Homo sapiens: one gene and its partners. The protein of the gene in region 5 purifies or fractionates together with the protein of the main gene of each other region. This does not show direct contact. Each region holds a gene or a part of one and is shown on either strand. Other genes may lie near its edges.

The links.
Region 1: the proteins of CCM2 (region 5) and CA10 purify together in Homo sapiens (co-immunoprecipitation; one large-scale study listed by IntAct). This does not show direct contact.
Region 2: the proteins of CCM2 (region 5) and SPANXN3 purify together in Homo sapiens (co-immunoprecipitation; one large-scale study listed by IntAct). This does not show direct contact.
Region 3: the proteins of CCM2 (region 5) and CMSS1 purify together in Homo sapiens (affinity purification with mass spectrometry; one large-scale study listed by BioGRID and IntAct). This does not show direct contact.
Region 4: the proteins of CCM2 (region 5) and STK25 purify together in Homo sapiens (co-immunoprecipitation; one study listed by IntAct). This does not show direct contact.
Region 6: the proteins of CCM2 (region 5) and STK26 purify together in Homo sapiens (affinity purification with mass spectrometry; 2 studies listed by BioGRID and IntAct, with this or other methods). This does not show direct contact.
Region 7: the proteins of CCM2 (region 5) and PPP4R2 purify together in Homo sapiens (co-immunoprecipitation; one large-scale study listed by IntAct). This does not show direct contact.

The regions. Positions count from the first base shown.
Region 1 is NC_000017.11:51,928,215-51,931,714, forward strand, and holds part of CA10 (carbonic anhydrase-related protein 10 precursor), read right to left. Parts: intron 2,919-3,500; coding exon 2,776-2,918; intron 1-2,775. UniProt on the Homo sapiens protein: Does not have a catalytic activity.
Region 2 is NC_000023.11:143,514,676-143,518,713, forward strand, and holds the start of SPANXN3 (sperm protein associated with the nucleus on the X chromosome N3), read right to left. Parts: upstream 2,801-4,038; 5' UTR 2,717-2,800; coding exon 2,639-2,716; intron 2,220-2,638; exon of another isoform or gene 2,015-2,219; coding exon of another isoform or gene 1,940-2,014; intron 1-1,939.
Region 3 is NC_000003.12:99,824,362-99,827,861, reverse strand, and holds part of CMSS1 (protein CMSS1), read right to left. Parts: intron 1-3,500.
Region 4 is NC_000002.12:241,498,585-241,502,084, forward strand, and holds part of STK25 (serine/threonine-protein kinase 25), read right to left. Parts: intron 3,125-3,500; coding exon 2,894-3,124; intron 2,213-2,893; coding exon 2,156-2,212; intron 1,698-2,155; coding exon 1,589-1,697; intron 831-1,588; coding exon 673-830; intron 591-672; coding exon 405-590; intron 201-404; coding exon 55-200; intron 1-54. UniProt on the Homo sapiens protein: Oxidant stress-activated serine/threonine kinase that may play a role in the response to environmental stress.
Region 5 is NC_000007.14:45,069,701-45,073,200, reverse strand, and holds part of CCM2 (cerebral cavernous malformations 2 protein), read right to left. Parts: intron 3,376-3,500; coding exon 3,240-3,375; intron 2,813-3,239; coding exon of another isoform or gene 2,664-2,812; exon of another isoform or gene 1,452-2,663; coding exon of another isoform or gene 1,329-1,451; intron 476-1,328; coding exon 418-475; intron 1-417. UniProt on the Homo sapiens protein: Component of the CCM signaling pathway which is a crucial regulator of heart and vessel formation and integrity. May act through the stabilization of endothelial cell junctions. May function as a scaffold protein for MAP2K3-MAP3K3 signaling.
Region 6 is NC_000023.11:132,057,802-132,061,301, reverse strand, and holds part of STK26 (serine/threonine-protein kinase 26), read right to left. Parts: intron 1-3,500. UniProt on the Homo sapiens protein: Serine/threonine-protein kinase that acts as a mediator of cell growth. Modulates apoptosis. In association with STK24 negatively regulates Golgi reorientation in polarized cell migration upon RHO activation.
Region 7 is NC_000003.12:72,999,811-73,003,310, reverse strand, and holds part of PPP4R2 (serine/threonine-protein phosphatase 4 regulatory subunit 2), read right to left. Parts: intron 1-3,500. UniProt on the Homo sapiens protein: Regulatory subunit of serine/threonine-protein phosphatase 4 (PP4). May regulate the activity of PPP4C at centrosomal microtubule organizing centers.

The DNA of each region.
Region 1 (3,500 bases), on a different chromosome or scaffold from region 5:
ATACAATATTTTAAATAACTTTTTGCATGAAACACAGTTTGAACTGCATTTTGACTGCAACCTGTCACATGAGGCTAAAAGGTGAAATAAATCTCATTTTTAAATAAAAATGAATATTTTCTATTACACTCAAGGCACAGTGCATAGGATGAGAAGGAATAACTATTATTCCTTGCTATTCTTGTACTGAGGTTGAATTTTAGCCTTAAACTATGGTAAGGAAAGCCCTTGTTCCTTCATTTGAGCCCAATGTCAGGTCAAATATGTTAAAATAAACATAGTAACGCAAGTCAGGGGCTTCCAGAGAGCTGCATCACAGTTTTGTGCATAAGATACACTTGAACACCAGAAAGAATAATGCTTGTGGATAAAAATGCGACACAAAACATGTAGTTACTAGGCTGCATTTCACGTACTGACACCCAGCTTGGCTCAGACTTCAAAATGTGACATCTTGCCCAAATTCAACAAAACTTCCCAGTCTTACAGGGTGATTTTCAAATCGATTAAGTTGGGTATTTCTTTAAGGGAAAACAAAAATCAGAGCAGTGATTTGAATTCTCACTTTCAAAACAAGTTTCCAACTCATTAAACATCACCTTCAAAATGTGATACAAACATGATTTACCTATTGCCTAGCAAATTAAGGCATTTCATTACCAATTAGTTTATCACGACCAACTATATTTTATTTTCTACCTTTCACAAATGCAAAAGGAACCATCAGACAGTTCTCAGCTCTTCAAACCACTGACAACAAAAATTGTGCCAGATATAAATATTTACATCATGAAAAGTAAATGTTGCCAAGATTCCAAACTCCAATGCATTTGAAAATTGGTTTGGATCAGGTATACTTTCCTGAATTGGAAAGATACAAAATCATCTGTTCAAAAAATATCTCTAAAACAAAAAAAAACCCAAGTCATAACATGTGAGTGATTTTTAACACTAGACTATCTCCCAATCTCTTCTTTCCCAATAAATTTTAGGGAGAAGCTGTGTTGACATTTTTTTCTTTCACATCAACATTTTTCCTTTAAGACATTCTGATGGAAAGTAAAAATTATATATCCATTGTTTGTGTTAGTTTGACACATTTTCCATCTCAATCCCAATCTGTACTTTATCTAAAACCCCTTCAAATGCTTGCCATAACTCGTAGGCGAAGGATTCAGCTCCCGAACACTGCCTCAGGACCTGCCCTCTGCTGTCCTCTCTAGCCTACCATCTTGCAAGCCTCTCTTCGCTCCCTGTGTTCAGCCTTGCTGGCTACCTTTCAGCTGCATTCTGGAACTCAGGCACCAAACCCCATTCTGTATCTTGGGCTTTTCCACCCCCTGCTTTTCCTTTTGCCTAGAATGCAATTATCCCCTACATCACCCTCTCCAAGAAAGAAAGAATGACTGAATATTTAATCATAACTACAACTTTTCCTTCTTAAATACTGACCAGCGAACTCACACGTGTTCACGACTTTAAATAAATAATTCACCTTTTTAAAGAGAAATGTACTTAGAAGCCATGACAAGCTCCTTGCAGAATTTATAAAAATAAAACTATAAATGGAACAATAATTAGGATAGCATCGTTTTATATGGAATCAGAGCAATAAACTAAATGACCTATATATGACCTTTCCACAAAAATGCTTCTCAAGTCATATTTAAAACAGTACACAAATACTGCATAACTAAATGGTGTCGACCACATGCAATGTCTTTTAAAACCTGCTTTGTGACCTGAGTCAAAGTCACTTACAGCTTTTTGATGAGTCATTAGGGGTGTGTGTATCTGTGACAGTTACATGGTACAAGAAAATATATTTCAATACATCAGAAGGGGAAAAAGTTAACTTACAAACTTCATGGTATTTATGGTGAACAGACTGCACAAAGGAAGAGAGAACAGAGCCCAATGACCCAAACCCTGAAGAATCAGCCGCTGGTATTATCAAAAGTTGTCAATAATTTTAACCTCAATTTTTTGCACACAAATTATTTTCCATTTCTCTTAACAATAGCTAAATTACCTTTGAACACAATTTTCTGCATGTGCATTTTTTTTTTACCTTTAACAACCTACTCAACAGTAAAAGATAGCCAAGTAGACATGAACCAGCAAGAGAAGTGCTAAGATTCCAGTGATGAGAAGACCCAATGGGCACTTGTGCCCTTCCACAAATTAAAGAGGAGCTCGTTATGGGGGGAGGAGAGTGAAGGAGGGATTTAGGTGTGAGAATCACAAAGCCCAGCTCAGCATTTCTGTGCAGGAGCTAGGATTCTTAGCAAGCAAGATGCCCCTAGGAAGATTAATTATTGATTTTCTTATAAATCATCTAAGGTGATTTTTGTCTGTTTTTTTCCTCCCAAGATGATGAACGTCTGATTTTATTTTTGTTAATTGGTTTTCTCACTTCACTGAGGTTAAAAGAAGGCCTAGTAAAGCAGTTTCTTAGAGGAAAGATTTTCCCAGCATGATAGGCAGGGGTGGCCACTATGCTTTCTGTCCTTTATGGGGGTACCAAGGTTGTCTGATAAGACTTCAGGCAACCTCCAGGAGGTACAGAGTAATCAGAAGCACAAAAGTTTGACTAGTTAGGGAGAAAAAGCACAATTTAGACATATTTCTATCTAATGGCGGCAGGTCTGAAGTCTGTGGTATTCCTAGGTGGGAGGACAAACTCATCACAGAGACTGAAGCCTTGAGGATTAGCTTTCAGAATCAAGATGGCCCCATCTTCAACTTTACCATGGAAGCAATATGGTGGCTTACCTTCCTGCCCCCCGTGTTGATGCGAAGAGGTGTCAGAAAGGGGTCGAAGATCATGTGACTGGTCTCTATGTTGACTGGCGACTGCCGTTTCCCCACAGAGCAAAGATTCCAAGCTGAGTTCACCAATCCCCAGAAAGAAGGAACTAGAAACAAAAAGAAATTATAGAATTAGGCTGAGTAGCAGGTTGGGGAAACAACATAAATAAACAGAGCTATGTACAAACGTGGTAAAATGGAAGAGAACCACCAAATGTTCCCACCCATGGAGATCCTTGGGGGTTGCTATGGTATTTTCCTGGTCTGAATCTTGGTCCACTTCTCTAAGTCTTACCTGCATGGTCTCTTGTCATCAGATTTTCTTGTTTGAGGCCCACTCATCCTGCAGTTTCTTTGTTGACTGCAGTCATCATTAACACTTTAATGCTAACATCATTGTTCAGGTCTCATCATCTTTGCAATATGCCTGGGGTAGCACAAATATTTAGCAATTCCCTGGAGTTGATGCTGTGCTTTTCCTATCTGGCAAGAACGATGTGAAAATCAACCTTATCCTATTTGGAAGTTTTTCAAGGAAAGTGTCATTCAGTGTACACAAAGTTTTTCTTTGGGTTGTCAAGACTAAACTGAGGGAGTGACTTATTTTATGAGCCCCCTAATCAATGCCAGACAAGAGCTTAGCAACTTGACTTCATCTTTGTTTAGTTCAACACTGTGTCATTAACCTA
Region 2 (4,038 bases), on a different chromosome or scaffold from region 5:
TCACCCATATTATCCACCGGTTTAAACTCCCCTCTTGCATCCAGTCAGACAACGGGCCAATTTGTTTCACAGTTTAACCAACAGCTGGTAAAGGCTGTAAACATTAAATTGGCTTTGCATATTCCTTACCACCCCGAATCTTCAGGGAAACTTTTTTAGAAAACAGCAACTGACCAATCTTCCCTAAAGGTTAAAATGGCCTGGACTTCACTTCTCCCATTGTTCCTCATGCATTTATGAGTCATTTCCCAAAAGCTCCTCAGCCTAAGCCCATTTAAACTCATGTACAAATGCCCTTTTATCCTCCAGAATCTCCCTGTATTTTCCCCCCATTCTATATGGAATACTTGGCCGGCGTTACACCTCACCCAACATCTAATAAGACAGTACACAAATGCTTACTTGACCCAGCCTAAAAGTCCATCCTCAAAATACTCCGCCCTGTCCCTACAACCAGGGGACTGGGTCTGAATCACAGACTCCTCCTCCTCCCCTTTCCAACCTAAGCGGAAATGTTCCCACCAGGTTATCCTAACTACTCCGACTGGGGCAAAGCTAACATCCTTTCCACACTGAATACACCATTCCAAACTAAAAAGAGCACCAGACCCACATCTAGAAATTTCCTCACCCCCATATTATTCTCCTTCCCCGACAGGACCAACCTCACTGTACTTAACAAGAATTCCAGAAGTTGCCAATCCAGAACACCTTAGTCCATAACACTCTCTGTCTCCAATTTCCAATCTTTTATCTCCTACTTTATTTCAGATCTTTCCTGGCTACCCTTCCCCATGTCCCTGAATAGTCCATGCCAATTCGTCATACTAATCCAGGAGGTATGACTGCAGGGCACCTTCCAAAATTTCACTCCTACTCAAATCTCCTCTTTCTTCTTTTGTCCTCTTTGTCTGTGGGATACTCTAAGTCCCCACCCCCAACCTCTGACAGTTGAGCCCCCTTCATCAGCCTCACACCTTTCCTCTTAAATCAGTCACACTCCCCTCTTCCTTCCAACTGTTAAACTTGTTTGTCCACACAAATCCAGCAATTCACAGCCCTTCCTGTCAACCTGGCCACATGAACTCGGTCCAAAATAAGCCTGCATCTCACCTACTTGACCAGTTCATTCCCAAACCTGTTTATAATCTTGATCAGCTAAACTCTTTTTCCCCCAATCCATCAAATCCACCCACACCATCACATACAGGGCTGTCACCCTCCCTCGCCTCATAGCCTCTTAACTGAATATGTTACAAACGGATTCCATAAAACACCTTTTAGAAACCCCTCCCCTCTTGGCTGGAGCCGCTCTTCATATTATCCAACTCAAGGGCGCTCGCTGGAAAACATGCACAAACAATTCCCTCAAGTGCAACCTATATCCTTCTGCCCTGTCAGGGCTACAATGGCTATTAGTTACAAAAACCCATTTCCCCCTCTCTTTCCAAAACCAAACAGCCTCCATCTCCTCCACCACCAACATTTCCTATCAGGCCGTCAGAGGGGCTACCCTTGCTGGCAGCTATTCAACTTGGAAAAATATAAAAGTTAAAACAAAGAATTTCTGCAGAATTCAACACCCACCTTCTCATGGCTTGCCACCATAACCTACAACTTTTGTCTGTCCACCCCCAGTGTCTTCTTCTTTTGTGCCACAAACTCTTATCTCTGCCTACTGGCCAAATGGTCAGGAACATACACCCTGGTGTTTCAGCCTAAACATTAACATTTTGCCTAACAAGCAGACCATCCAGGTTCCTTTAGTAGCTTCTGTCTCATCTTCCTCCACACACACTAAGCAGGCTCTACATCTCATTCTAGTGTTAGCAGAAGTAAACATCTCTGCTGCAGTCAGCACTGAGATAGCAGGGGGCCCCTTTCTTAGGACCCTTAATTTTCCTCCTCCTAATACTACAATTGGCCCATGTATATTTACCTTCATATCCCGCTTTATCTCCCGAAGGCTAAACTCCCCTGTCCAGGCGGCCACCCAGCAACACATTGATACCATCCTTCTCCTCTGCCAAGTCCAGTACCAGTGCCTCCAGGAAAACAACTCTGAAGTCCAACACCCACTGCTTCAAAACCCAAACCCTGATTACAGCTCCCCTATTCGGCAGGAAGCAGCCAGATAATCAACAATGCCCCTCTTCCTTTTATACTAAAGTAGAAGGCAAGAATGTGAGTCCAAACCACCATTTAGTAAGCACCCTGCTATTTTTCAGACCTTGGTCAAAGTGAAACATTCCACGGGGGTTCGGGCCATGAGAAAAATCTTGCCTAATCGTCGTAACACAAGACGGACAAAGGTCCAACTAAAGAAACTTTCCTATCATATCTTGCTGGGCAAAGTTTCAAGATACACCACAATGACATCCCACTGGAAAAAGGACCAAACAGCCTGATCATAAAAACATCTTATCAATATCCTGCCGGGCAGCAAGCCATACTGCCCAGGCCCCTCCCACCCCTACCTACAAGCACCCCAGCCTGTAAGCAGCGGTGGGCTCTGGCATTAAGCGGGTCCCCCACTTCCACAGGTGTCTGCAGTATTCCTGTGTTGCTGTTTGAGCCACCCCCTCTCTGTGTGTCTTTCTTTCACCCTCACCTTCCCTTCAAAACCTGACAATCTTACCTCATCATTTTTTTTGTTATTGGATTCACAGGGGCTCTTCGTCTTCTCCCCATTGGTGCTGGAAGTTGGCTGTTCCATGATTCTGGTTGGTTGTAGAATGTCTATAGTAGGCTCCTGTAGACTGCAGACTTCCACAGCTATGTTGAAGCTTCCCAGTGGGATGTCCCAGAGCTCTTGCCCTCCCTATATATACCCTCCTGGTGACAAGGCAAAGCCACACCCTTGAGCTTTGTTTGATCATACAGGCAGTGTCCCAGCCAATGGCGGTCCTAAGGTGGCTTTGACATCACAAAGCCCCACTGCTGACCACTCCTTGGGCTTGTGGGGGAGGGGTGACAGGGATGTAGAGGAAACCAAATGCGGTTGTTGTTTCAGCATCCCCTGAAGATGCATCCCAAACCGATCTGCCGCCGCTCCTCATTTCTCCATGTTTAATGTTCATGGTTCACATGGAAGTCAGAGGATGATTCCTTCAAGCCCTTCCCCACAGCCATTCCTATGAAGTGATTCATTCTTTTGTCTTCCAGCCCTCACCATGACTTAGTATTTTAGATGTCTCACCTCAAATCCCCCAAGCTAGTGTGGCTACATTTAATTATTAGTTATTAATTACTAGTTACATTTAATAATTAATAATTAATTATCCCATTTCCCTCCTACAGTTCCTTCATATGCACCTTGAAGACCATTTACTTTTAGGCTACTGCCAGGCAAATTTCAACCCATGTTATTTTACTCAATGTCCGTGTAGTTCTTTTAAATTTCCTATTTCCAATCTGCAATAATGGCCTTCAGTCTGTCAAAATTTTAGTGAATAAACATTCTTTACTGTGTATCCTAGTCTTGTTTCAAATGAGGGGTGTATTTTCATAGTAAATGTAGTCTCCCAACATGAATTCTGCCAGTATGTGGGTGGGGGAAGGAGTGGATATTCAAGTGCTGGAAGTTGTTCTCAGTGTTTACATGCAGGATGCTACAATCTAAGACCCACATGTGCACCAGTATGGGCATAGTTATACTTTGTACTGAAGATTGTGTCCAGTGCAAAAAGAAAAATGCATTCAGTTTGGAAGGGGAGAAGTAAAAGTGTCTTTTGTCAAAGACTACATGAAAGTATATGTAGAAAAGTCAATCTATAAAAAAGCTTCTACAATAATTGAGGTTAGCAAGATTGCAGAGTAAGAGATCAATACACAAATCAATTGTATGTTTATATATTAGAAGAGGCAGTGTTTCAGCTAATGGTAGTCCTAGGGTGGACTGGAAGTTAATTTCAACAAATGAAAGTTGAAACTAAGAACAGTGCAATTTAAAATATCACTAAAAATATTAAAGTCTTAGGGATAAATCTGACCAAAAATGTAAATGACTTGTACACTTAAAACTACAAAAAAATTGCA
Region 3 (3,500 bases), on a different chromosome or scaffold from region 5:
GAGTCCGAGGCGGTGGATCACCTGAGGTTGGGAGTTCGAGACCAGCTTCACCAACGTGGAGAAACCTCGTCTCTACTAAAAATGCAAAATTAGCCGGGCATGGTGGCGCATGCCTGTAATCCCAGCTACTCCGGAGGCTGAGGCAGAAGAATCTGCTTGAACCTGGGAGGCGGAGGTTGCAGTGAGCCGAGATTGCGCCATTGCACTCCAGCCTGGGCAGTAAGAGCAAAACTCCGTCTCAAATTAAAAAAAGAAAAAATTTGCGTAGAAAAATGTTGACACTTCTATGGGAACCAGCAGAAACTCATCTTTAAATGGTAATGCAGTTCTAATCCCATTAAGACAAAAGTCTTCAAAGTAAAGTTACATTTGCCGGGTGCGGTGACTCACACCTGTAATCCCAGCACTTTGGGAGGCCAAGGCGGGCAGATCACATGAGGCCAGGAGTTTGAGGCCAGTCTGGTCAACATGGCGAAATTCCATCTCTATTAAAAACACAAAAATTAGCTGGGCTTGGTGGTGCATGGCTGTAATCCCAGCTACTCAGGAGGCTGAGGCACGAGAATCGCTTGAGTCTGGGAGGCAGAGGGTGCAGTAGGCCAAGATCATGCCACTGCACTATAGCCTTGGTGACAGAGTGAGACTCTGTCTCAAAATAATAACAATAAATAAAGTTATATTTTAACAAAAGGATTGACAACCAAAAACCATGCTTGTTTCAAGCAATATGTATTAATAATATAATAAAAATGCAAATACAACTATAAAGTGAGAATACTATTTGGAGTTCAAAACAGTAATGTCTGACCTATATGTAACACAACTGAAATATAAAGCATCTTTCCTCCTGGGCATGTTGTTTCCGCAGAAGTGTGGCCTCTGAAGAAAAATGAAAATAAAAGAAGCTGACCTAATAATTCTAGAGTGATTTCACCTGATGAACTGTTTCAAAGTAAGCAGATAAAAATCCAAGTGAGTGAAAACAAATCCAATTTGTAACAAAAATGTTAAAAACCTGATACTTTTAAGCTGAAGTCTTTTCCTGGTCCTTCATTTATTTACCTTCAAGGTTTCTGAACTAATCTTGAGATATTTTAGAATCAAATATCTGATTTTAACAGATATGTGACTGGTCTAATACATAGCTGATAACTACTAAGTAACGGAGTAACTAAGGTAAAACACAATTCTCTCTGGATTTGTTTCAAATTTCTTCTCCTGAAGACACGTGACATACAATTCACGATGTGACTTTGAGTTTGGGGCAGCGTTTGCAAACTGCGGTTCACAGGCCAAATTCAACCCACTGTGAAAGTTGAAAAACAATCAAAATAAGACTATTTTGTGACGTGAAAATTACATAAAATTCAAATATTGTTGTCCATAAATAAAATTTTATTGGAACACAGCCATACTCATTCGTTTACACATTTATTTTCTATGACTGCTTTTACACTGCAACAGCAGTTATGACGGTGATGACTGGACCCACACAACCTAAAATATTTATTATCTGGATTTATATGAAAAAAGTTTGCTGACCTCTGGTCTAGTGTGAACTAGAACAAGGAACTCAGAAATAGGAATTTAAGAGCTTGATCAACTACTTTTTATAAGCAATATTAGCCATTTAAAAATCAATTAAGAATTCTATGAAAGCTGATAAAAATGGGGAAACTATATTTCAAGCTGTGATATATTTAGTAAAATGTATAATTCTATGAATGCATCTGAAGTGTTCCACTAAATAACATCAGATTAACAACAGATAAAAGACTTGTGCTGGGCCGGGCTCCGTGGCTCACACCTGTAAATCCTAGCACTTTGGGAGGCGGAGGCAGGCGGATCATGAGGACAGGAGATCAAGACCATCCTGCCTAACGTGGTGAAACCCCCCTCTACTAAAAATACAAAAAATTAGCCAGGCATGGTGGCATGCACCTGTAGTCCCAGCTACTTAGGAGGCTGAGGCAGGAGAATCGCTTCAACTCAGGAGGCGGAGGTTGCAGTGTGCCAAGATTGCGCCACTGCACTCCAGCCTGGGGGACAAGAGCAAAACTCTGTCTCAAAAAAAAAAAAAAAAAAAGAAAAAGAAAAAAAGAAAAAAAGATTTGTGCCACAAAATGATATATTATTATTGAATCTGAGGGAGGAAATGGAAGTTATGTATAGGCCTTCCACATTTATGAGTTGTATTTTTCAAGAGATTCATGGACATTTAGCAAAATTATAGCAGGAACTACCTGACATGCAATTTAGGGAAATATGCATAAATTTCCACCTTTAAATGTTCGTAATTGTTGTCAAGAACCACTCATTTAATCATCTGAAAGAACTGTGGAAATTATATGCAGTAAATTAAACCAGACCATGAAGGTTATCTAAGTGTCCATCTGTTACAGCCTTCAAGTGTAGAGCAATGACTAATAACATAGTCATTTTTCTCCCTCCTCTTTCTTCTTTCCTTCCCCTTGCTTTTTAAATTCATCCTGCCCCTGTGTTTTGCCCCTGAATATCTGTCAATACTATTTGCATTTTGACTGAACCACATCAATGTGTAAATCCTGTAATGTAAGCTGATTATGTTTTTTCCCTCTAATTCTGGTACAGTGTCTAAAACAAGGCTAAGCATGAGAGCTTGACGAATGATTATGAAAACAACATGCCCAGAAGTCGATCCTCTGTTGTGTGTTATTAACATCTCCTACAAATATTCCAAGTCTGAATTTTATATGTAGAGACAATGCCTTACAACATCTACAATGCAAGACTGTCTATATGTAAAACTAATACTGTAAAGGTTTAACTTTGGTGTGAAAATAGAAAAAACACAGAACAAAAAAACCTGGGTACTTGGGTTTAAAGAAAAGATCCAAGGTGCTCCCCTACTCCATTTCCAGAAGGAATTCACCATGGATAAAGCAATATAATTTGAAGAATATACCATAAAATGATATTACAACAAAAATATTTACAAAGCTCATTTCAGCAATCTCAAAAAGAATAAGCACATTGATTCTAGGTGACAAAAGCTGTCACCAGTAAAAATTACAGGCTTATTTACAAAGAGTCTCTTGTCCTCTTTCCAAACGTAATTTATAAAATTAAATCCAAATATGGTTACAATAAAATGTTAGACACAGTTTTACAAGGACTACTAATGTAATTTTGAAAAGAGAAAAGCGGCATTTGCCAAATCTGTCAAAAGCCTGGACAGGAGTTTGACAAATCTGCCAGCAGATCAAGGTTCTTTTGATAAAGATCTCCTAGGTTGAGGTCTTCAAGGTGTGACTACGAAATATTAATAATTAATTGGTTAACTAACAAATACTTAATGAGTGCCTTCGCTGTATCCAGATACTACTCTAGGCCCTGAAACTAAAGCAAACAAGACAAACAAAATACCTGCTCACATGGAGCTCTTACAGTCTACTGCTGGGAAAAAGTAATTAATTTAACAAGGAAAAATAATAGTTGGTGCTAAGTGCTCTGCTGAGAAT
Region 4 (3,500 bases), on a different chromosome or scaffold from region 5:
GACCACCCACGTCACAGCACCTAGGGTCACCATGAGGATAAACCAGGTCCCTACATGTCAGAGTCCTCAGAGCTGGACTCCTCGCCATGCCCCTCTGACTTCCAGCGCTTATAGCGGTCGATGAGCTCCGTGAGGAAGGAGGTCTTCTTGGTGTAGCGTGTGATGAACTTGTGCTTCAGGAGCTCCTTGGCCGTGGGCCGCTGCAGGGGGTCAGGGGAACACTAGTCACTGGGCCCAGCCAAGCTCTGCCTAAGGGAAGCAAACGTGAGGCAGCCTGGACCGGGGCGGGCCCTCACAGCTACAAGGCTGGTGGGCCTGGGCCTCCGGGCTGTGCCGCCCACCCCAAGCGAACGCCCTCCCTCCACGTCCTGTCTAGAAGGGACCGGGCCAGAGGCGGGCCTTACGAATCGGGGGTCTTTGTTGAGGCAGGCCTCCACGAACTCCTTGAAGGGCTTGCTGTGCTGGCCCTCCAGTGTGGGTGGGCTGTTCTTGGGAATCAGGAACAGGACGCGCATGGGGTGGAGGTCAGAGTTTGGAGGCTCCCCCTTGGCCAGCTCGATGGCTGTGATCCCCAGGGACCAGATGTCAGCCTGGACAGAACACAAGGACTGTTGCTGCCCTGAGCACCCGAGCCAGGCATGGTGCCCGCACCTGCCCGCCCGCTGCACCCACCTTGAAGTCGTAGGCCGACTGCTTGATGACCTCAGGTGCCATCCAGAAGGGGGTGCCCACGAATGTGTTCCTCTTAATCTGCGTGTCTGTGAGCTGCCCTGCTACCCCAAAGTCCGCCAGCTTCACGTCACCCTGCTCCGAGAGTAGCACGTTGGCAGCTGCTTGACACAGGACAGGCAGGCGTCATCCCAGGCTCCACGTGGCTCCACCCCGGGCCCCCTGAGAAGGGCCAGGGTACCATCCACCTGGCCTCCTAGGGCACAGCAGGGCTGTCCTCAGGACCTCAGCCCTCCTTGCCACTCTCAAACCCAGGGCCACCTAGGGCCACAGGGGCACTGCCAGCAGGAGCCCAACGGCTCCACTCCGAGCTCCAGGGCTCTTCCTGCATTTGGCTTTTACGACAAATCCCAACGACAAGCGACTTCGCCCACTGGGGGCTACCGCAGAGGTGACCCTGACCAAGGGTGTAGCCAACACGGGCCTGCCAGGAAGCCCCCTGCTCCACCAGAATCGTCCCCTACATGACAGAGATGGCTCGTTGCCAGTGGCAAGTCCCTCCCCATGGGCTGGCCCAGCCTCCCGTCTGCTCTCAGCAGGGCCAGACCACACGCTGGGGCTACTCAATTCTACACCTGCTGCTGTGCCGTGCACCACAGGGAACCAACAACTCCAGCCAAGTGTGGCCCTTTCCTACACTCAGTCCACAGCTGGTTTCCTCAGCGTACAAGGAAACCGTTACAAGTAGTATCTTCTGGAAAGGGAGCGAGACAGGACTGCTCAGTTTCAGGGTGGCCACAAGGTTCTCTATACTCCAGACCCTGGGCACCACTAGCCACTTGCCCCTCACAGGCCCCGGCCTCTCTAAGGTCAGTGGGGCTCAGGACGTTACAAGAGCCACATCCACCCCCAGCAGGACCTTTGATGTCTCGGTGGATCTTGCGTTCGGAGTGCAGATAATCCAGGCCCTTCAGAATCTCCCGCAGGATCGTGGCAATGTATGTCTCCTCCAGGGGACCTGGTTTAAGCTGGAGAGGAAGGTGCGACAGCAGGGCCTCAGCTCCTGTCCCAGGCCCAATGCCTGAGTTCTCTGCCTCTCTCACAGGGAAGGGCTGTCCCTGCAGATAGCTGGGGGCTTCGTGTTCCTTTACTTCCCAAACAGAACTAAGTTTCAGATGGGAGTGGGGTGGTGGAGGCTCTTTCTAAAGCATATAAACCAGCCTCACCTTACTGTCATGTAACAGAAAAATAGGCTCCCAGCCATCTCCCAGCAGGCCTGCCCCCGCCCACTCCCACAGGCCAGGACCCCTTTCAGCACCAACTGGGCAGACGTGCAGATGGCAGTTCATTTTTGCTTTAGACGATTCCTAATTAACACCTAACGTGCCATGACACCAAACGAGAGGTGGCCCCTGGAGCCCATGAGTCTGAGGGGCAGGGGACTCGGACACTGCATGACCCCCCACTGCCATGGCCTATGCCTCACCAAGTCCAGTGCTGAGCCGCCGCCCAGGTACTCCATGATGATCCATAGCTTGGTGCTCTGGGACCGGAGACAAACCCATCAGCATTTGGCAGCAAGAGGAAGGGCATGCTCCAGGGTGGGAGTCACAGGCCGGAGTCAGCCAGGGCCCAGGCCCCACCGGTCCCATCCCTGCCAAGAACCCTGAACAGGAAAGGGCTCTCTCGGCCTTGCCCATCTTCCCCTCCTGCCACACTACTGCTACAGATGCTCAGAGGACAGGTTGAGTACACACAGCAGTGGCTGACTCCACTTCACCAAGACCCCATCAAAAACCAGGCTGCTGATCCAGTCCTACAGGGCTGGGAAGAGGGCATGGCTGGCAAGCATGTGACCCGACACACCCATCACCCTCCTGGGCAGGATGGCCACAGCGTTCCCTACACCCCAGACACTGGCACCACCAGCCACCTGCTCCTCACAGGCCCACTCACCACTGCCAGTAGGGGCCCCCCAGAGTGCTCCTAGCAGCGCCCTCACTGCATTACCACAGGCAGGCAAGTGGGTCCCAATGGCCATTTAGAGCCAACTGACCCTCGTGGACGAGGGCTCACACCCTGCCTGCCCAGGGCAGTTTCCCGGAGGGCATGCACTGAACCGTCAAGACCGCCTTGCACCCTCTGGCATGTCACTCAGTCCCTCTGACATGGAAGAGAGCCGGGCACAGCACCAGCAGGGTCCCCGCCTCCCCACAACAGGCACCTTTAGGTAGGAGCCAAAGTAGCGGGTGATGTAGGGGCTGTCGCACTGACTGAGGACAGTGATCTCCTGCTGGATGTCCTCGATCTCATCCTCGGCCTCCTCCAGGTCGATGATCTTGATGGCCACCACCTCCTTTGTGTGGTTATCGATGCCCTTGTAGACCTCCCCAAACGAGCCCTTGCCAATGCGGTCGAGCTTGGTGAAGAGCTCCTCAGGGTCCACTCGAGAGTGCTGTGGGGCCAGGGCGGGGACAGAGGGCAGACAGCGCCGGTCACAAGAGGCGGGGGACAGGCAGAGGCTGCCCTGCTGGGGAGGAAGGGACCTGTAGGGAAGGGGGAGTCCAAGGGAGCGCACCTCAATTCTTCTCTGGTTTCTTCCTTTCTCCCTTTTTGTTCAAAAACTAAACTTGGCCGGGCGTGGTGGCTCACGCCTGTAATTCTAGCACTTTGGGAGGCCGAGGCAGGTGGATCACTTGAGGTCAGGAGTTCGAGACCAGCCTGGCCAGCATGGTGAAACCCCATCTCTAATACAAAAAAATTATCTGGGCGTGGCGGCTCATGCCTGTAATCCCAGCTACTCAGGAGGCTGAGGCAGGAGAATTGCTTGA
Region 5 (3,500 bases):
AGCATTGTTGGGCAGGGGAAGGAGCCAGGGTTGGGGAGGTGGCAGGAATGGAGAGCGCGAGTGGGTGAACTACTACAGAGCCCCAGGTGGTGGCAGAGATGGGCTGGAAGGCCAGCGCCTCGGCAGGCTCGGGCAGGGGAACAGCTCCATCCAACATGCCTATTACAAGCTCACTCTTGGGAGGCCATGGGAAGGTAGGCAGGGAGAGACAAGAGGGACAGCAAGGGCTCTAGAAGTCTACGAGGAGAGGGCGGCGAGCCAGGCCTCAGCCATTCACTAAGCTGGGTACAGTGGGTCTGGGGATGGCTTAGCGAGGGTGAGCTGAGATGGGGGAGCTGACTGGCTGCAGCCTGGACAACACCAGACAACGCATTTGGTGCGTGTCCCACCGCAGGGCTTGGTGGCATGTGCACTCACAAAGTGCTGGCTTCCACCTCGTAGGTCTCCTTAATGTCCACTTTTGTAGAAGAGTCATCTGTAAGGAAGATGCAGAAAACTAAGATGACTTTCAGGGACATAGTGGGGAGGCATTTTGAGTCCAGCCCACTGCTGTATTTACAGGAGACAGCGGCAGCCCTGGTCTTCAGGGACCCTGCTGTCCTTCATCAAGCTGCCCGCACTCTGGAATGTGCTGTGTGCCTCAGGGCAGGGCTTCCCAGACTTGAGCCCACATACACCCCTCCTGGGGATCCTGGCAAATGCAAATCCTGCTGCACGCTGGGCTGAAGTACACATTCACCCATGGCCAGAGCCAGCAAAAGCTGTCTTTGAGGTATCACTCATGTGCCAGGCAGGGTTACTGGGGCTTTGTCTCCTTTAACCCAGGCATATATCACCCCTGTCTTCACTTGTAGATTAGGAAGTAAGTCAGAGAGTTACACAACTTGGCCCAGGTCACACAGCAGAAACCACAGTCAGAGCCGGGCAGTCTGACTCCCCATCTGAACCCAGTGAAGCCACAGGATTCCCAAGACCCTCAGACCAGCAAAGGGTCTGGCACTGAGCAGCTACATTCAACAAATGACATTAGGTCCGTGTGACACAGACTGTAATTTGCTATTTCAAACCTGAGGAAGGCACATTTCACACCAGCACAGACAGTGAGTGAAAGCTTTGTGAGCGAGGCAGGTGAGTGTTGCAGAGAGGGTAAGATTTTAAATGAAGCAGAGGGAGAGGCTGAGAGATAAAAGGGACATTTCTGGCACTAGGAACAAGGTAAGTATGGAGGGCAGAATAATGACCCCCCAAAGACGTCCACATCCTAATCCCTGGAATTGGTGAATATGTTACCAATTTCAAAGGGGAGTAAAGGATGCTTATCAGCTGACCTTGAAATAGGGAGATGACCCTGGAGAATTTGGGTGGGCTCAATGTGATTGCAAGAGTCCTGAAATGCAGAGGAAGCTGACAGTCAAAGGAAGATGTGACTGTGGAAGAGGTCACGTGGCTGGCTGTGAAGACAGAGGAAGGGCCATGAGCCAAGGCATGCAGCCGCCTTTAGGAGCTGGAAAGACAAGGAAATGGCTTCTTCTCTGGAGCCTCCAGAAGGAACCAGCCCTGTGGACACCTCAACTTTAGCCCAGTGGGACCCACAATGGACTCTTAACGTATAGAATTATAAGAGAATATATTTCTGCTGTTTATGCTGCTATGTTTTGGCATAGCTGTAGTAGAGAGAACACAGCAAGCAAAACTCCAAGGCAGAAATAAGCAGAGAATGCATGCATGTGCGTAACGTGTGCACATCTGTGTGTGGATCCCACGGGGAGGTCTTGGGAAAGGCTGGCAGGGGAAGAAGCCCACTTCAGCAACCCCCAGTAGTGGTGTTACATGATGTGTTTACTTTATGAAAATTCATTCAACTGTACATGTATGACTTGTGTACTTCTCAGTAAAAAAAAAATTATTAAAGAAAAAAAGGCCCTTTGGGAATTTTAAAGCACAAGGGCCAAACCAGTCGCACTAAAACTGAATGTTTAATTACAGCTCGATAAATCATCTGCTACTCATATGGTACATTCCTCTGGATAAGCTGTTGACTTCTAAGCCTCCACTTCCCCATCTCTAAAATGGGGATGAAGATTGCACCTATCTCGCTGGGCCACCGAGGACTAAATGAGATAGAGAGGATGCCTGAGAGCTCAGCAGCTGTCTCTCTGCAGCTGCTGGGCCAACACAAGGCGTGTAGTGCCCACAAAGGGCTCTGGCACCAGCAGCAAGAAAGGGAAGAAGGAGGCACTGAGGAGCAGCCCTCACACCAGCACAGGCTTCTCCACCATTTACTCTCTTCACTGAGATGTGCGAGTTACTGGGGAAAGGGCAGAGGGCTGGGACTTATCTCCGTAAAAAGAAGAAATTGTACTCAACAAGCCGCACTGTTTCCAACAGCCTTTTTTTTTTTCTTGGTATTTTTTAGTAGAGACAGGGTTTCTCCATGTTGGTCAGGCTGGTCTTGAACTCCCGACCTCAGGTGATCCGCCCGCCTCAGCCTCCCAAAGTGCTGGGATTACAGGCATGAGCCACCACACCCAGCCTCCAACAGCTTTTTATGCACCTCAATTTATATAACCCATTAATCCTCAATAAGTAATACATCTGAAAAACAGATGATGTTTTTGAAGACTTAACTCAAGTGAGCTTGCTGATGAAGTGTTTTCAATGGACTAACAGACTCCTGAAAATGCTGTGTGGGCCATGCAGGAAGAGACAGCTCTGGGGTACCTTCCATTCTTCCCCATCTGCCACTGCTCCACCACTGCCAGCTGGCCTCCCAGGGCAGCCTGAGCAGCTTCCCATGGGTCTGGCCATGGTCCTGGAAGGAGTTTCACATTAAGAGCAGCCATAGTCTGGGCATACTGAAAAGGAGGCTCCCCAGACCCACTCTCAGCCTCCCCAATTCCATCACAGGCCCCAGTGCTAGGAGCCTTCTCCAAGCTCTTTGTTCCGAGTTAAGTGAAGTGACTTTAGCCACAAGTGGTTCCAAAAAAGTGTTCACAGACCCCAAATTTATTCCAGGAAGCCATAGCGCTGACCTGGTGCAACTCTCTCAAGGACAGGTGACACTTCTGCCTTCATGAAACCCTATGGGCTAATGTGAACAGCAAAGTCTGGAAACAAAAGGCCACCATGTCACGGCAGTAACTGCGCTATTCCAGGAGTAACTCATGGGGAGCTGGGGGCCACTGCAGTAGCCCCTCCTGTCCCTGCTCCCACCCGCTGCCCACTCTCACTCAACATACCGCTGTGCAGGGACAGGTGGTGGGTCGGGGTAGAGGCCCCATCAAATATCGCTCTGTCCAGAAAGTCGATGGTGGACTCCGTGTAAACAACCTGGAAGACCTGGCCTAGCAGACAGCAAAGCTCCTCCGCAGCGACCTGCAGTGGGGGACAGCAGCTGCTCGGTCAGTCTGGCTGGAGACTGCGCCTTCCCAGGCGGCTTCCAGGATACCTGGGGCAGCCCAGATGCTCAATAAACATGAATGAAGAGTGGATACCAGAAT
Region 6 (3,500 bases), on a different chromosome or scaffold from region 5:
TGGTTCTTACAATGGTGGATAGGTTAAAAATTGTTTCTTCTGCCACAAGTTTGTTTCTAACAAGTACTATACTCTATCATATGAATTCAGAGAGCTTCCCATTCACCTGACATTTAAAAGAAAAAGATCTTATAAAACATGCCTGCCTATTTTGCAGTTCTGCATGAATGAAAGCACCTGTTTTCCAAGTTAAAAACAATGTGTGCCTTTTTGTTTGTACTAATTCAAAACAGAAACTTGCCAACTGTCTGTCAGTAAAACGTGTTCATAGAAAGCTTGAAATGTGACTTTACAAAGTAGTATATACCATTAAGCATTAAAATTACAACTACTCAATTTCTAGATCTGAAAATAAGGAATCCTTATTTGTTCTGGAAATCAGTGGTGGTGAGGGCTGCACAACACGCCTGTAATCCTGGTATTTTGGGAGGCCGAGGTGGGAGGATCGCTTGAGTCCAGGAGTCTGAGAGCAGTCTAGGCAACATAGGGAGTCCTCATCTCTACAAAAAGTGCAAAAAAGTAGCCAGGTGTGGTGGCATATGCCTGTAGTCCCAGCTACTCGGGAGGCTGAGGTGGGAGGATCAATTGAACCTGGGAGGTGGAGGCTGCAGTGGGCCAAGACTGCGCCACTGTACTCCAGCTCGGGAGACAGAGTGAGACCCTGTCACAAAAAAAAAGCAAAACAAAAAAACAAAACAAAAAAAAAACCACCCAAAAAACAAACAAACAAAAAAAACACAAAATCAATGTGAATGTAGCCAATGCCAGAGAGCTGTACACTTAAAATGGCAAATTTAGTGTTAAGTATATTTTGCCTGATTAAAAAAAACATACAGCACATAAGACTTTATAAAACTGGAAGTGACAGTAGAGATCATCTTGCCAAGAATATGGCTAGAAAATTTACCACTTCTGAGTCATTTTCCTCCAGCTTGGAATGCTGTGTCCCTACCCCACTTGCACCTTCCAACCCCTATCAAAATCATTCTCAAGACTTAGTTCAAATGCTACCTCCCTAGTTTGAGGGTTATTGCACTTGATGTACTCACAGATAAGCAGGCTATTAATATGAAGCAAGTTATAAACACATATCTGGGGCTGAGCAGAGAGGATGAAACCAGAGACATCAGTTTAGAAGTTGTCAGACGAAAGTAGATGAGATTAACCACAATATGCAAAAGAAGAGGAATACACATAGTAGGCATTAATAAATAAGCGTCTGTTGAATTGAATCTAACATGGGGCTTCTTAGAGGTGTATTATATTAAGTTTAAAGCTATTCCTATTTTGAGAAAAGAACATTTTAAGAAGGAACAAACTTTCTAGCCTCCATTTTCTTCAAGTTTTATAAGAGAACTCCAAAACAAATGTTAACAATAAAAGAATATTCCAGAGGCATTGAGCATACATAAACTGGCTGTAAGCACATACAGTTTCAGTGAAAAATAAGGAGAAGGCCACAAAGCCGTACAGATGATTCTGAAATATTTTACTTCATTCAATTCTTTTTTTTTTCATAAATACTGGTGATGGTGGGTGGGAGGCAATATTTCCTTAACATACACAGAAATCTAAAGGCAATTTTCAGCAGCAAATAAAGGCATGATTCAAATTCTATTCAATGCCTGAGTGTCATTTTAAGATTTACACTGAACTAGAAAAATATTTAAAGATTATAAAAGATTATTCCAATATTATGAGATCAGAAGGGAAGGGTTTGCTTATTTTAGCACTCTTCATAAAGACTAACTTTGTCAAGAAAATCTGCCCAGTGAACTAAAATTAAAGGAAAACACTGTGGTCATACTGATGTGTTTGTCTGGTTTTTAACTCTTGTTTTCAAAAATGAAGTTATACAGTGAGCTTAGTCAAAATGAATACCTAGTACATTTTTTGCATGTCTCAAGGAAATCACTACAACTGCATACAGTTTCAAAGAACATATAATTTTCTCTCAAATGTAATAAACTTTTCCTCCAGCTTACAGTGAGGTCTTAGTTATGGATGACATCCTGTGTAAGAACAACCCATTTCCCAGTTTGCTCAATTAACTTGACTCACAAAATCCTCCATGTCACCTGAAATGGAACAATGGGCCACAATAAGTATGTAAGTTGACTGATAACACAGTTCCCTGATGGCACAAAGAGGATGTGGCCTTGACTTATGTTGACTACATGAAACAGAATCCTGTTATATTTGACGTGATTTTAGTTTAGAAAAAAATACAAACCCACACAGTCATACTATGTTGTAATATAAATGGAAAATAAATGAGTTGGTCAATTTAAGAAAGTGATTTAAATACATGGTATGAAAACGTTGTAAGATTATAGAATATTTCTTTCTCTGTGTGTATATACATATGTCTCAAGACATATGTATATACACACAGATTTATTTACTTTAAATAGATTCAGAACACAAATAATCAACATAAGCCAGCTGCACATTTCTACAATTTTATCATGAAGCAACATGTTCTTCAAAGTAGTGTTTTATATCATAGAGTTTAGTTAATGATGGGTGAAGGAGATAAAAATAATTTGATTTAATCCCTTAAGAAGCTATCTTGGACGATGGTTTTGTAGCACTGGCTGGTCTGAGTACACTTTACAATCAAAATTTGGGACAAACAAAAAACTAGTTTTTAATTATTTAAAGATTAAGTAAATACTGGGTGACTAGTACATGTATACTACTGTGCAACTTAAAAAACACTCTATATGAAATCTTAGGAAAAGAAGATAGAGCTGTCACTCATTTTCCATGGGAGTATTGAATATGAATAAATAAGCAACCAATAAAATTGTCAAACCATATCAGTACCAATTTTCAATATATTATGGAATAGCCATTTTAAATAGGGCGTATTTAATATTTTAGGTCAGCAACCAAAAATAGTGTTTTTGTCACAGGTGCCTAAAAGTAGCAAGGATTCAGTTTTGCCCTAGAGTGAGTCTGGAAATACCGGGATTCAGTCCAGAAAGAGTAAACCAGAATGAGCAAATGATACACACACAGACACACACACACACACACACACATACACACACACGCACACACACACATGTACCACCAAGGAATTGTATGGGAATTAGGAGGAGAACCTAAAACTACTGAGACTGCGTAATCACTCATGAGATCTCTAAAAAAGAATATGATGGGCTGAATTAGCTTTTTAGGAACAAATATGACAGCAAAATTATCACACAAAGGAGCAAATAATTATGTATGTAGTAAAATACAGTAATAGCTAACACTTAGATGTAAATGCTGAAATTGGATAGAAATTACTAGCATTATCACCTCCTTTTGGAGGCCTTTTATTCATGCCACTCCTGAAAAGGACAGAAGTGACTACTTACTAATTTGTGCATCATCTATACCTTGTACATACTTTAACCATAAAATTGGCATCATTTCAGTGCAAAACTGGACTGTGAGTGCCTTGACAGCAGTAGTGAGTTTGTTCACTTTTATATCTTCAGCACCTAATA
Region 7 (3,500 bases), on a different chromosome or scaffold from region 5:
GAACCCAAGAGGCAGAGGTTGCGGTGAGCTGTGATCGCACCACTGCACTCCAGCCTGGGCAACAGAGTGAGACTCTGTCTCAAAAAAAAAAAACAAAAGGGAAAGTTACGTAATAGCAATATGCTCAGACAAGGGAGACAGAAAAACTTTTAAATGGGGGCTAGAAATAGAGAATATGTAAAAAAAAAAAAATTTAACATTCCTAGTAATTATATTGGTGGCAGTAATATTCGCATTATTATTTTAGACTTTCTGATGTGTAATGTTGGTTACAATCAGTAATTACAAGACATCCTGATTCTATCATACCCTGCCTGTGTTCTTGAGAGAACCAGGATTCCTGGTATGCAAAAAGTTATAAAAACCCTGGGCCAGGCGCAGTGGTTCACACCTGTAATCCCAGCACTTTGGGAGGCCAAGGTGGATGGATCACGAGGTCAGGAGATCGAGACCATCCTGGCTAACACAGTGAAACCCCATCTCTACTAAAAATACAAAAAAATTAGCCAGGCGTGGTGGCGCATGCCTGTAATCCCAGCTACTCACGAGGCTGAGGCAGGAAAATCGCTTGAACCCAGGAGGCAGAGGTTGTAGCGAGCCGAGATCGCGCCACTGCACTCCAGCCTGGGTGACAGAGCGAGACTCCGTCTCAAAAAAAAAAAAAAAAAAAAAAAAAGAAAAGAAAAGAAAAGAAAAGAAAAGAAAAATCCCTGTGCACTCCCATGTTTACTGCAGCACTATTCACAACAGCCAAAATATGAAACCAGCTCAGTGCAATGGCTCATGCTTTGTAATCTTTGCACTCTGGGAGGATTGCTTAAGGCCAGGAGTTGGAGATCAGCCTAGGCAACATAGCAAGACTTTGTCTCTACAAAAAAAATTATAAATTAGCCAGGCATCGTGGCATGTACCCTATCTGTAAGTCCTAGCTATTCAGGAGGCTGAGGCAAGAGGATCCCTTGAGCCTAAGAGTTTGAGGTTGCAGTGAGCTATGACTGAGTTGCTGCACTAAAGCCTGGGCAACAGCAAGACCTTGCCTCAAAAATACATTTTTTTAAAACAAGGAACCAACCTGAGTTCCCATCAATGGAAAAGAAAATGTGGTATATTATTCAGCAATAAAAAAGAATTAGATCCTGTCATTTGCAACAACATGGATGGAACTATAGGCCATTATGTTAAGTGAAGTTAAGTCAAGCACAGAAAGACAAACATCACGTTTTCACATATGTGGGAGCTACAACAGTGGATCTCACAAAGGTAAGAGTCTAAAGACTGATGATTACTAGAGACTGAGCAAGGAACAGGAGAGATAAAAGGGGAGAAAAAAGAATATACATGTATTTATTACCACCAAACTGTACACTTAAAATGCTAAAGATGGGGCCGGGGGCGATGGTTCACGCCTGTAATCCCAGCAGTTTGGGAGGCCAAGGCAGGTGGATCACGAGGTCAAGAGATAGAGATCATCCTGGCCAACATGGTGAAACCCTGTCTCTACTAAAAACACAATAATTAGTTGTGTGTGCCTGTAGTCCCAGCTACTCAGGAGGCTGAGGCAGGAGAATCGCTTGAACTCAGGAGGTGGGGGATGAAGTGAGCCGAGATCGCGCCACTACGATCCAGTGTGGCATAGGGCGAGACTCCATCTCAAAAAAATAAAAAAAAAGAAGAAAGAAAACTAAAATGGTAAAGATGGTAAATTACATAAGTGTGCAAGTGTGCATGTGTGTGTTTGAGACAAGGTCTTACTCTGTTGCCCAGACTGGAGTGCTGTGGCACAATCACGGCTCACTGCAGCCTCAACCTCCCAGGCTCAGGTGATCCTCCTACCTCCTCCTCCCAAGTAGCTGGGAGTAGCTGGGACTACAGGCGCATGCCACCACGTTAGGCTAATTTTTTATATTTTTTGTAAAGACGGGTTTCACCATGTTGCCCAGGCTGGTCTCGAACTCCTGGGCTCAAGTGACCCTGGGCCACCTGCCTCAGCCTCTCAAAGTTCTGGGATTACAGACATGAATCACTGCACCTGGCCAGTAAATTATATAAGTATATTTTACCTAAACAAAAAAAAAACTTTTTAAAACGCTGTATTCCTCATTCTGAATTGCAAGTCTTAGTATTTTATGTAGCTGAGTAATAATAAACTTCTCTACCACCAAGATTGTAGTCTTGAAATGCCATTTCCCACTAAAAGGCAGGTCTTCTTGAGAAATATCTGATTCACATCTGGGGCAGGAAATGAGCTTGGAACATATTCTTATACCAGAGAATAAGGATACTATCAAAAACTACTAAGGTCACGTCAAAAGGACTCTGGAGCCAACTGGAAAAGGCTACCACTGACCAAATGGGAGACAACTTGACCGTCAAAAAGGATAATAATTGCAACTCAAACCCATCAAATACCTTTAAATCCATGACTGAAATGCATCAAGTGTTTAAATTCATGATTGAAACACACCATATGTTCCTGTTTATTCAGCGCATACTATATATTTAGCATGATGTCAGAAACTACATTACCTTCAGAAGAGTGTATTCTTTCCAACATAAAAACAATTTTTTGAAGTGGCCAGAAACAATTCACCTGGGGATTAATTATTTTAGTTATATACATATATAGTTTCCCTCTTCACATCAATTTAGTATGTCTTGGCATCTTTCCTAACTTCCTACATCAGATGTTTACAGGTAATTTTAATAGACTAAGAAGTAAAAATGTTCAAATTTTTCCTACGGCCTCCTCCATTTTTCCTACAACCTCCTCCATTGTAAAAGCCTATACTTACAATTCTAAAACCTCTCTAAAGCTAAAAGCAAGTGTCAAATCAATTGTCTTTTGAAAAGAAAACTAAGCAGCCTGGGGGGTCACTGATTTTGATCCATAAACAGTTTCACATACTACTTCTGTTAATGCTTTCTTGCTATAATGCATCAGTGAAAATAAAAACAACTATGAAATTTTTTTTTGAGACAGAGTCTCACTCTGTCACTCAGGCTGCAGTACAGTGGCACCAACCATCATGGCTCACTGCAGCCTCAACCTCCCACATTCCAACAATCCTTCTGCCTCAGCCTCTGGAGAAGCTGGGACTATAGGCATGTACCAACACACTCAGGTAACTTAAATTTTTTGTCCTGAGCTCAAGTGACCCACTGTTTCCCAAAGTGCTGAGATACAGGCATGAGCCACCACATCCGGTGGAAATGCTTATCTTAAGCAATCCACCCATCCTAAAACATCAGAAAAGTCTAAATTGCTGTTCTTTAAATTTTCATTTTCATTCTCTCGTTACAATCTCACATACTAGACAAAGCTTAGTTTAGCCATAAATAGGTAGCAGAAACTCTGCAAATGTCAGTATCAAAGATATGCCATGTTGATAAAAAGAAATCAAAGCTTAAAGCTAAATGCATAAACACTGGCTGCTATTTACATAATAAAATAAAAAATATTTTCCAAATTCCATTGAATATAAGAATCTAACTACACCAAT